3 linked regions of the Homo sapiens genome follow. The protein of the gene in region 2 interacts with the protein of the main gene of each other region in a biochemical or structural test. Each region holds a gene or a part of one and is shown on either strand. Other genes may lie near its edges.

Region 1 (3,656 bases), on a different chromosome or scaffold from region 2:
CTACCACGAGCAAAGCAAAGTATACAACTTGACATACTGAACTCTTCATTGACACACCCCATGACTGTATAAGCAGGACACATTTACTCATCATTTTAGACCCTAGAGAAACCATAACATCACCAAGTCGACAGTGGAGGCAAATCAAAATTTCGGCAGAAAAAGAAGGTCATGTGGAACCTCAAAAACACTTCTATTCTGGATGACATCTGTGAAATATACTACATGAACAGAACAGCTTGTTCTCACTCAGTTGCTTTGTACCAGTAAGTGTATTGCTTTCACCAAAAGTGGAGACAAAAGAATAAATTATTTGAAGAAGTATGTAAATAACATAAAAATAGTAAGCTACCTATGAATAAAAATACTTATTAAATGATTACTTCTGTATTTTAGATTATTTTGTATGACTAGTACATGTTGGGCAGAGTCATAGGAAAACAAATGCCCTATCTTGTATTATGAGGGACATAAAAGAGTTAAAAACCATAAATCAGCAAGGAGCATGCAAAAAAATCTCATCAAAGAAGGATGCACTTTAATTTGCTGATGTAAATTTGCCCTTGTGTTCTCATCCCATGATTTGACACTGGCATTCCAATTGTTTTTATCTTATTGTAAATATTCCGAAGAACTTCCAAAGGATAATTACATTGACCCATGATAGATACAATGTGAAATGGACTATTCTCCCTTGGATCACTGTTATTGAAATGTCTTATTAGCTGCCAAAGTCAATCAAATATGCCAACAGTGTATTAATTTAATTATGAGTGATGGAAAATTTCATGAACCTCTCATTTCTTCCTTGGTTTGAAAGAGATTTGTATTTTACCTAATAAGATTTATTATCAAATTAAAGTTTCATAAATTTTCAGTGAACCCAAAACCTTTTGTAGAGAAAATAATATAAACAAATATGGTGTGAGAAACAATTCTTTGTAATCCGAAGTCTACTAGTTAATCATGAACTAAAATGTCCCCCGAAAACAGTCCCAAAGCTATTATAGATGTTAATTAAATGACATTTTTTCATTTTAGTACTATTTTATGAGAAACAAAGGTGATATTTAAAGATAAAAGTTAAAATTCTTTAACCTCCCTTGTCATGGAAAGTGATTAAGTAATGCCAACTATGCAGGTTGTTTTAGGTATTTTGTCCTAAGAATGTAAATGTGAAAGGCTGGGAAATTTGAAAGCCTTAGAGGTGTGCAATTTACTCAGATTCCAGGTATTATTCAACTAGTTGTATAACATGGAACACAGTCTCTGTCCTTCAGTACAGCTTTTTTGAGATATTTTAAAAAGTCAGCTGTGTATGTAAAAAAAAAAAAAAATTTTTATTGATACACATGCTCCCAGGTAAACCAAGTATTATGTGTGTCCTTGTGGAGATAACCAAGTATCTAATAAATTGATTCAATTTTTTTTTTCAAATATGTTTTTAAAAATCACTCAAGAAGGAAACAAAGTGATTTCTATAAAGGACAGATTTACTAATTTAAAAAATTAATATCAAGTTGTTTTTATACTCATGATTCATTAATTTATTTTGCATCAGATTAATTTGTAAATACATCAAATTGAAAAGAAAAAGTGAGGGTTTATAATTGTCCCTGGGAAAATGTTAAACTGAATCTAACATACCTTACCCAAAGAACTGTGGCAAATTACAATAAACAGTTTCAGTGTAATGTATTTTGACCGTAAAACTAAGTACACATTTGTAATTAGGATAGAACTTTAGAATTATTGCACACTATATTGATCAAATACAACAGTCATTGTAAAATTGAAACCCACCAAAAGCAGCCTTCAGTAGTAGGCCACTTCTGAACTTATGGAGAAAAAGCAGTGGGATACATCGAACTTAGAATTTTCAGCTGTGGCAAGTGGTTCATTATGGAACTTCTGCTTCCAACCAGAGCTGAATCTCAGTGTGCCCCATATTGGGGTTACATGAATGTGTCCACAATCTGGAAGGCAATATGACATGGGCTAATTATCCATAAGCAAAAGAAAAACGTTTCAACAGTTTACCTACCTGTAATAGAATGATTTAAAAATTGTGAAATTTTGTAAACGTTCCATTTTAGAATTTAAAAAACCTATTAACCATTAGCTATCTTTTTAGTGTTATTATGAAAATTTAGCCTATGCTCATGTGTGTTACGAAGGAAAAGGTGCACAATGAGATATGTATAAATATATATCTCCTCAGAGAATACACACACACCTACATATGTATTTATATGCATACATGGGTGTATATATATATAAATATAATGAAATGCTGACCATTAATTATATTAGAAGAATGTTTTGTGTACATACATTTAATATACTTTAAATTACGTTGTAAAATGTAGCTTGATTAAAAACTTATGACAATACCATTATGAATATTTTTGATACTATTGATAAAAAACATAAGCCGTGATTTTTATTTAACATGATTAGTACAACAGCCAAAAAGTAACAAAATACTATTCTCGTTTTCATCAGTTTAACAATTAGTATTTAATGTTTTCTTTACAATGTGGTGATTAGTCATTGGCATTTGTTATAACTTGGACTACTTGAATGAGAAAGCTTTGAAATGAACAAAAACACTTAAAAATTTCTATCTCTCATATAATTTAGGTTTACATGTAAGAGATTTATTCATAAAATCCTAGTTTGTACATTAAGCACATTTTAACAGCAAAATGCTAATGTGTTAACCCCTCCAGTGCCTTGGTATGTGTGAGCGTGTATGTGTGTTTGGGTGTGTGTCTGTGTATGTGTGTGAGTGTGTAAGTGTTATCATTAAAGGGTTCATTACAGTGTACATAACACAAGCTTAATGGAGAATATTGTAGGTATTTAGGTCAGAGAATGAAGTTCAAAGTCATTTGAAAACTGCTAACTACTATAATAATGTCTTTTGCCTGATAAAGAATAACAATTCATCTAAGTCGAAGTATATTACAGAAAGGGCATTTATAATTTGTTAAAATGCAACAAGTATTTATTTAAAAAATAGTTTAATAGATAGTGTAAGTGTAATGTATATCTGAACACTTATCCAGCTTTTTTAAAATGGGAGGATAATCAGGTAATTATTTCTTGCCCATATTTCAGGCATGTACCAACTTATAATTTTGAAATCTTCGCTCATAAAGCTGTCATTCAGCAAGAAAAAGAAAGCAATTACTTGAAAATAAATGTCAAGTCCATATTAGCCATGCAAAGAGAGAAATTTTCCTTTGGGTGCATTAGTTTATAGATCAACATTTCCCTCATTTACAGTGCTGAAGCTTGATCATGAACTTTGTCTATGTTGAATGCTGGATTTAAGAAAAGCTTGATTTATTACTGAGAAAAATTAATAATCCTAACGATAATTTAGAATTACTGCTAGAAATCAGCAGTGTGGAGAAGCTTTAAAAGCACAAGGATGATCTTGTGCTTAACTTTTTAAGGTAAGTGTAGATGTTCGGATACTAATAACAAAGATTTTGCTACTATTAATATTGCTGTGCTCATAATTTCTCCTTATGAAATTGCTTTATTCATACTTCTAAAATTGTTCTTTATTGTTTATTCTTACTACCGAATACTTTAAAATCATAATGCCACTTATTTGCACATTTGAATTTGCTTTTGAAAATAAA
Region 2 (3,656 bases):
TATACAGACTAGGTCTTTTATATCCGATCATCTATAAACATATATCATTAATAAGATCATAAATAATATGTTTTAAGCCACTTCTCCAGCCCTAGACAATGGCATAAGAAATTAACAGTTAGACTGGACTTCAGAGGCTTTAGGCCACAAAGATCCTCTTTCTGAGACAGAAAACCTTTTCATCACATCAGTCGAAATATTCCTCTTTTTCTCCTGTTAATGCAAGAAAAGTATTAATGCTGCTATAACATTTTAATGAAACTTAGCGAGATACTGTGACATACATTCTTTCATGTGGAACCACCTACGTAACTTTTAAGGAAGGCCAGATAGGGATTCCAGTAAGAAAATGGAATGCAGAAAGGTCCCTACCTCACCAAGTAAATATGACTTAGTAACTGCCAAAGACAGAAGTCAAACCCAGGTTTGTTTGTTTGTTTGTTTGTTTTGAGATGGAGTCTTGCTCTATCACCTAGGCTGGAGTGCAATGGCACAATCTCGGCTCACTGCAGCCTCTGCCTCCCAGGTTCAAGCAATTCTATGCCTCAGCCTCACAAGTAACTGGGATTACAGGTGTGTGCCATGACGCCCAGCTAATTTTTGTATCTTTAGTAGAGAAAAGGTTTCATGTTGGCCAGGGTAGTCTCGAACTCCTGGCCTCAAGTAATCCACCTGCCTCGGCCTCCCAAAGTGGTGGGATTACAGGCGTGAGCCACTGTGCCTGGCCTCAAACCCAAGTTTTCTAATGTTAAATCTGACACTCTTGTCCCCCCATTTCTCACTCTCTTACCTCACTTCATCCCATGAGGAGCTCTGTAGAGTTCCACTGCCACTTTCCAAGGCAAGGAGGGTAGGAGGTAGATGGATATTGTACTCCCATGAAGGGAGAAGGAAGCAGGATAGTGACAATAGCAGTCATTTTTTTTAAAAAAAATGTTATTTTGAAAATTAAATAATCTTGTTCAAGGCTGCTACTAAAAGCAGGGAGGGGGAGAATGCCAGAATAGCAAATGAAAAGAAATTATACAGAAACAATTCATTTCCATTTTCTCTAATTGAGAAGTTTTAAGTTTCCTTTTACTGATAGCTTTGACAAGATTTTTAGAAAGTTAAAAAAAAAAAACAAAAACCTCTAAATTAGTTGTATATTTAAATAACTCAGGTCCCAGTCCCCTCCCTCACCTTCCAAAGGTTCTGATTAAATAGTCTGGGATGGACTCTGGACAGTGTACATTTGCTCATTTTCAGGCCCCAAGGCATTTCTAACATGCAGCTAGAATTGAAAGCCACTGTTCTAACCTTAAATTCACATAAACTGCGGGCTGGGCGCAGTGGCTTACGCGTGTAATCCCAGCACTTTGGGAGGCAGAGACAGGTGGATCACGAGGTCAGGAGATCAAGACCATCCTGGCTAATACGGTGAAACCCAGTCTCTACTAAAAATACAAAAAATTAACTGGGTGTGGTGGCATGCACTTGTAGTCCCAGCTACACGGGAGGCTGAGGCAGGAGAATCGCTTGAACCTGGGATGCAGAAGTTGCAGTGACCCAAGATTGCGCCACTGCACTCCAGCCTGGGTGACAGAGTGAGACTCCATCTCAAAAAAAAAAAAAAAAAAAAATCACATCAACTGCAACAAATCCCCTGAAAACACTACTAATTGCCACGTGAAAGTGCTGATGATGTTATCATTAAGCTAATTTAGATAAAACCTTTAAGAGTCACATGATGTATAGCAGTACCTAGTGACATTTTTTAAATCCTGCAAAACAAAATGAAACCCAAATTTATCTCTAATTCAAGGCTTTGTTTTCAGACATGAACTTGCATTCTCTAACAGTTACAGAGAACCTCTGTTCCTATAGCAGCGGTTCCCACCAGGGCGTGGTGGAGTGAGGAAGTGATGGGTGTGGTTTTACCCTCAGGGGACCTTCTGCAATGTCTGGGGAGATTTTTGGCATCTAGCAGATGGAAGCCAGGGATGCCCTTAAGCATCTTAAAATGCATAGGACAGCCCACCACAAAGACTTATCCAGTCCAAAATGTCAATTGTGCGAACAAACCCTGCTTTATACTAAAAATCTCATTGGGGTTAGCAGCTGTGTGTTTTCCACCCTGGCTATATGAAAATGTCATGAAGATGTGGAGGAAAAAGGGGGCCATCATCAGCCCTTCTCATCAGCTTAGAGGCTTTGACTATTTCTCCAAGCAGCCATAAGTTAGTCATCCTCAACCCCTACTCCTCCATAGGGGTCTCACATATTGCACAGAAGTTGACCGAAGCTCCATGCCGTGGTCATAAATGCCACAACTCACAGGAGGGGGTGAGAACGATAACAGCCATTAAGCTCCCAAACTGGGTTTACAGCAGTGCACAACTGTGCTGTAAAACAGCTACTTGTGATAAACAGGACTCTTTAAAATACATATAGGCATTACTGAACAATTGGTGACTCTTTTAAGGACACAGATGGCATATGCATCACATCAAAACTCTCAGTAACCTAAAAAGGACAAAAAGAAAAGATGTGGCAGGAAATCTAATGCTTAACTCTTTTGCTGCATAACTGAAATCTTTAAGAACATTACTTTTTTCTACTGCTTTCCTTCAGAACTTCCCTCCTCTCTTCAACTCTAACTACCCAAGTGGGGGGAATAATCAGCAATTTTTATGAACAATTTATTATCGTTGTCAATTGAATGGAGGGAGATCAGAATAGTAGAGAAAACTCTGAATCTTAGCTTTTAGCTCAATCAACTCAAGAATCCCCTCTAAGCCTCAGGAAAACCACTTAATTGCCAGTAAAAAGCTTAGAAAACTGCGGGTTTAGAGTGAGGACCACCTCTGTTTCCTGCAACAATTAAAAACAACGAAACACTAAACAAGGACATCAATAACAAGCTATAATTTCGTAAGAGAGAAAATTCTCTACACACTAGATTTTTCTACTTAAACACCCTCACCCTAAAAGTAATGCTCTTAAACATTTCTCCTCTGGGAAATAGCCTATCAGGAGGCATTTCTAAATATAATTCAAAAGATCAATTAATTTCAGTCAATGTAGCCTAATTAAAACTAGGTTAGATGATTAAAACTGTAGCATTCGACATTGCTTACAACAATTTTTGTAGTGTTCGTTGTTGGTAGACTTCATTTGTGCAGTATTTCACATATGGGTCAAATGTGGATGCTGTGTGTTTTTCCACAATGTCACTTATGTCATCTATGAAGATATTATTCTGATGTCTTGCTTCCAACTCTATAAAGAACCTGAAAAACCAAAGGGAAAAAAAAATTAACACTTCTTTCATACACTCTAACAGATAACAGATTAGCCTCATGTAATGTTATTACACGGGGTTTGAAAATTCAACAGTACACAGTACCAACTAAAAAATATTTTTAAAATCTATAAAAATTTTATCTAAGTTTAAATCTATCATATTAACACCTCCTTGAGGATGAGCATTGTGGCTCACGCCTATAATCTCAGCACTTTGGGAGGCTGAGGCAGGAAGATCACTTGAGGCCAGGAGTTCAAGACAAGACAAAACCAAAAAAAAAAAAAAAAAAATCAAGTTATTGCTTCAAGTGTTTGGCTTCAAACATTGATCTGCTCTGCCTTCAGGTACTTTAGACTAAACATATTTCATT
Region 3 (3,656 bases), on a different chromosome or scaffold from region 2:
AGTGAGCCGAGAATGTGCCATTGCACTGCAGCCTGGGCAAAAAGAGCGAAACTCCGTCTCAGAAAACAACAACAACAACAACAACAACAAAACGGCGTTCTGTGGCCTAAATGGAGGCCCTTCTTGTCTTCCTGGTTTTCTCTCTAAAATTATAGAGTACCCACATCTAACAAATACCACCCTGCTTTAGACGCTCTAAGAGAACTCAGATTAGCCGGCAGAAGAAACATTTACATCTGCCCATTTTTCTCTCTTTTGGTATTTCTATGATGGCAGATGTTCCTACCACAAAGAAATGATACATTTGATGTGATGGATATGCTGATTACCCTGATTTAATCATTGCACACTTGGGTCTCTTTATGCCATTCACCCTCTGATGGCAAAGCCGCAAGCGTCAGGCTCTTGTTCTATTTGGTTCCCTACTCCTGCGTGGATGCAGCAGGGCCCTCATGGACCTCTCAGTCCCAGTATCTGGCCAGTGGTGTGTGGGTTTGGCTCACACTGGGGGATGTGAATGATGTACTTCAGTGTAAAACAGTCCAAGTGCCGAGCTCAAGAGGCTTCCTTTTTAGTGCAGGGGCTGAGGCTAACTAGGGAAAACATACAGAATACGAAAGCTGGGATACAGGTCTACACCGAGCTCTGGCTGTCTTGACGAATTCAGAGGAGTGGGAGAGTGAGAAGCCAGATTATCCCAGGAAGACTTGACAGAGGAGGTGGGGACATGAATGGGGCTGACAAGGGGAGTTTGGCCAGAGAGTGAGGAGGAGGAAGGTAAGGAAGACAATGGAAGAGTACCGTTAAAATGTCCATACTACCCAAAGTCATCTATAGATTCGGTACAATTCCTACCAAAATTCCAATGACATTTTTTACAGAAATAGAAAAAAAAAAAACAGTTGTAAAATGTGCATGGAACCACAAAGGACTCTGAATAGCCAAGGCAGTTTGAGTGTAAAAAAAACAAAAGACAAAACAAAACAACAACAACACAACAAAAACAGGGCTGGGCATGGTGGCTCACGCCTGTAATCCCAGCACTTTGGGAGGCCAAGGCGGGTGGATCACCTGAGGTCAAGAGTTCGAGACCAGCCTGGCCAACATGGTGAAATTCCCGTCTCTACTAAAAATACAAAAATTAGCTGAGTGTGGTGGCACACGCCTGTAATCCCAGCTACTTGTGAGGCTGAGGCAGGAGAATCGCTTGAACCTGGGAGGTGGAGTTGCAGTGAGCCAAGATCATGCCATTGTATTCCAGCCTGAGTAACAGAGCAAGACTCCGTCTCAAAAAAAAAAAATAATAATAAGGTATTGCATTTATTGAAATAGCTAGAAGAGAGAATTTGGGATGTTCCTACCACAAAGACATGATACATTTGATGTGATGGATATGCTAATTACCCTGATTTAATCATTGCACAATGTATATATGTACTGAAGTACCACTTTGTGCTCCATAAGTATGTACAATTATGTGTCAATTAAAAAAAAAAAAAGGCAGCTGGGCACGGTGGATCACGCCTGTAATCCCAGCACTTTGGGAGGCCAAGGCAGGTGGATCACTTGTCAGGAGTTTGAGACCAGCTTGGCCAACATGGTGAAACCCTATCTCTACGAAAAATACAAAAATTAACCAGGCATGGTGGCATGCACCTGTAATCCCAGCTACTTGGGAGGCTGAGGCACGAGATTCGCTTGAACCCAGGAGGTAGAGGTCAGTGAGCTGAGATTGCACCACTGCCTTCAAGCCTGGGCAACAGAGCAAGACTCTGTCTCAAAAAAAAAAAAAAAAAAAAAAAAAAGGCAACAGAATGAAAGCAGAGAAGCAAGAAAGAGCCTGAAATCTTGGAGGTGGCAGGGCAAGGGGATGTGTGCCAGTGGACAGTGGGAAGTCATCTAGGAGGTGGGTTCCAACAGCCACTCACTCCTGAAAGTGCCTGTTCATAAGGCCCTGCATAGTCTTGGGCTAATCTTCCACCTCAGACACACAGCATCTTGCAACAGGGAAAAAAAATCTGGCATCAGAAAGAACAAAGCTATTTTCTTAGGAACTATGGGTCTGAGGTTGGAGTGAAAAATGAAGTTCCATGAAAGCTCTTGGTTTGAGAATTAAGTCAAACCAACTCTTCCCCAAATATTATGTTCGTTCCACAGCTCTCACATAAAATCATCTTAATTGCATTTTTTTAACCTGCTGACCTTGCTATGTGAATAATTAAGAACTAATTATTAGGACTCAGCCCTGTGCTAAGAGGTTTTCCAATAATTAAGGAGTTAACACTGTGCTAAGAGTTTTGTACACATTTAATTTTCCTCCTAACACTGAGGTATGTCCTGTGACCATCTGCATTGGAAGGATGAGGACGGAGAAACAGCGTGGTTAAGCAATGTGTCTGAGGTCAGAGTTCACAGGTGGCAGAGCCAGCGGTCGCCCCAGGAAGCTGGCTCCACAGCCCATGCTACTGCCTAAACCCTGACTATGTGGCCTCTGTGTGGAGAGCCCTTGGCAATCAAAAGGTTGGATCGTCGAGATCCCCATGGAGACCGTACTAGCTACTAGCTTTCCAGGCCCACTGTGGAAGGCCAGGGGCCTGCCAAGACTCAAAGCCACGTGCTCTTCTCCTTCTCTGCTCAACCTTTTTTGAACTTCCCCTTAAGCATAATGTTCCTGCTTCTGGTGACAGCAAATATGGGCGGTAGTGCGGGTGGTGGTGGGGAGTAGCAATGACACAAAAGGAGGGGATTTAAACTCTGTTTTTAAATTTCATATTCAGGCCGTGGGCGGTGGCTCATGCCTGTAATCCCAGCACTTTGGGATGCTGAGGCCAGGCAGATCACTTGAGGTCAGGAGTTCGAAACCAGCCTGGCCAACATGGGGAAATCCCATCTCTACTAAAAATACAAAAATTAGCCAGGTGTGGTGGTGCACGTCTGTAATCCCAGCTGCTTGGGAGGCTGAGGCAGGAGAACTGCCTGAACCTGGGAGGCGGAGGTTGCAGTGAGCCGAGATCGAGCCACTGTACTCCATCCAGCCTGAGCGACAGAGCAAGAATCCGTCTCAAAAATAAACAAATTTCATATTCGCTCACTGAATAAACCTAAACAGGCAATTCATGTTAGCAATTTGACTTTATTGCAAAGTCTGTAACTTAAAAGGTCTTCATCTGAGGGAGACGAGGTTACACTGAGGCAGCCTTTGGTTGTCACCTTTCAAGACAACCTTTTCTCTGGAAACGTTCGAAATGCCCAATCATGGGAGGAAGGTTGACTCGTTACAGCACATCCGTGGGGTGGAAGGCCCAGCAGCCTCTCCAGGTGATGTCGGGTGTAGAAGAGCCTGCAGGATAGCAGTGCGGTTTCCTAGAGTAGGCTATGGGTGTGCTGACAGCAGAGTGGTCAGTGCGAGGGACAGCCTGCTAGGTCAGGCCCATGGGCTGAGGAGCAGTCTTACTGATGCCAGCAGGCTGCTCAAATATTATTTCGTGTGGATGTATGAGGTTTAAAAAGGTTGTTAGGTACTGGTGACTACCACAGTGGATTTTTTTTTTTTTTTTGGCAAAAAGACAAAAAAAGCACAGGACTATATATTTATTCACACCCATATACGCACAAGACTCAAATGATACAGACCAAAATATTAACAGAGGTTTTTC

Evidence for each region.
Region 1: the proteins of ARHGEF26 (region 2) and SNTG1 interact in a test that uses a peptide from one of them, tested with the Homo sapiens proteins (one large-scale study listed by IntAct).
Region 3: the proteins of ARHGEF26 (region 2) and PDZD2 interact in a test that uses a peptide from one of them, tested with the Homo sapiens proteins (one large-scale study listed by IntAct).

Annotation. Positions count from the first base shown.
Region 1 is NC_000008.11:50,792,798-50,796,453, forward strand, and holds part of SNTG1 (gamma-1-syntrophin), read left to right. Parts: coding exon 1-32; 3' UTR 33-3,656. UniProt on the Homo sapiens protein: Adapter protein that binds to and probably organizes the subcellular localization of a variety of proteins. May link various receptors to the actin cytoskeleton and the dystrophin glycoprotein complex.
Region 2 is NC_000003.12:154,187,301-154,190,956, reverse strand, and holds part of ARHGEF26 (rho guanine nucleotide exchange factor 26), read right to left. Parts: intron 3,273-3,656; coding exon 3,120-3,272; intron 1-3,119. UniProt on the Homo sapiens protein: Activates RhoG GTPase by promoting the exchange of GDP by GTP. Required for the formation of membrane ruffles during macropinocytosis. Required for the formation of cup-like structures during trans-endothelial migration of leukocytes.
Region 3 is NC_000005.10:32,083,098-32,086,753, reverse strand, and holds part of PDZD2 (PDZ domain-containing protein 2), read right to left. Parts: intron 1-3,656.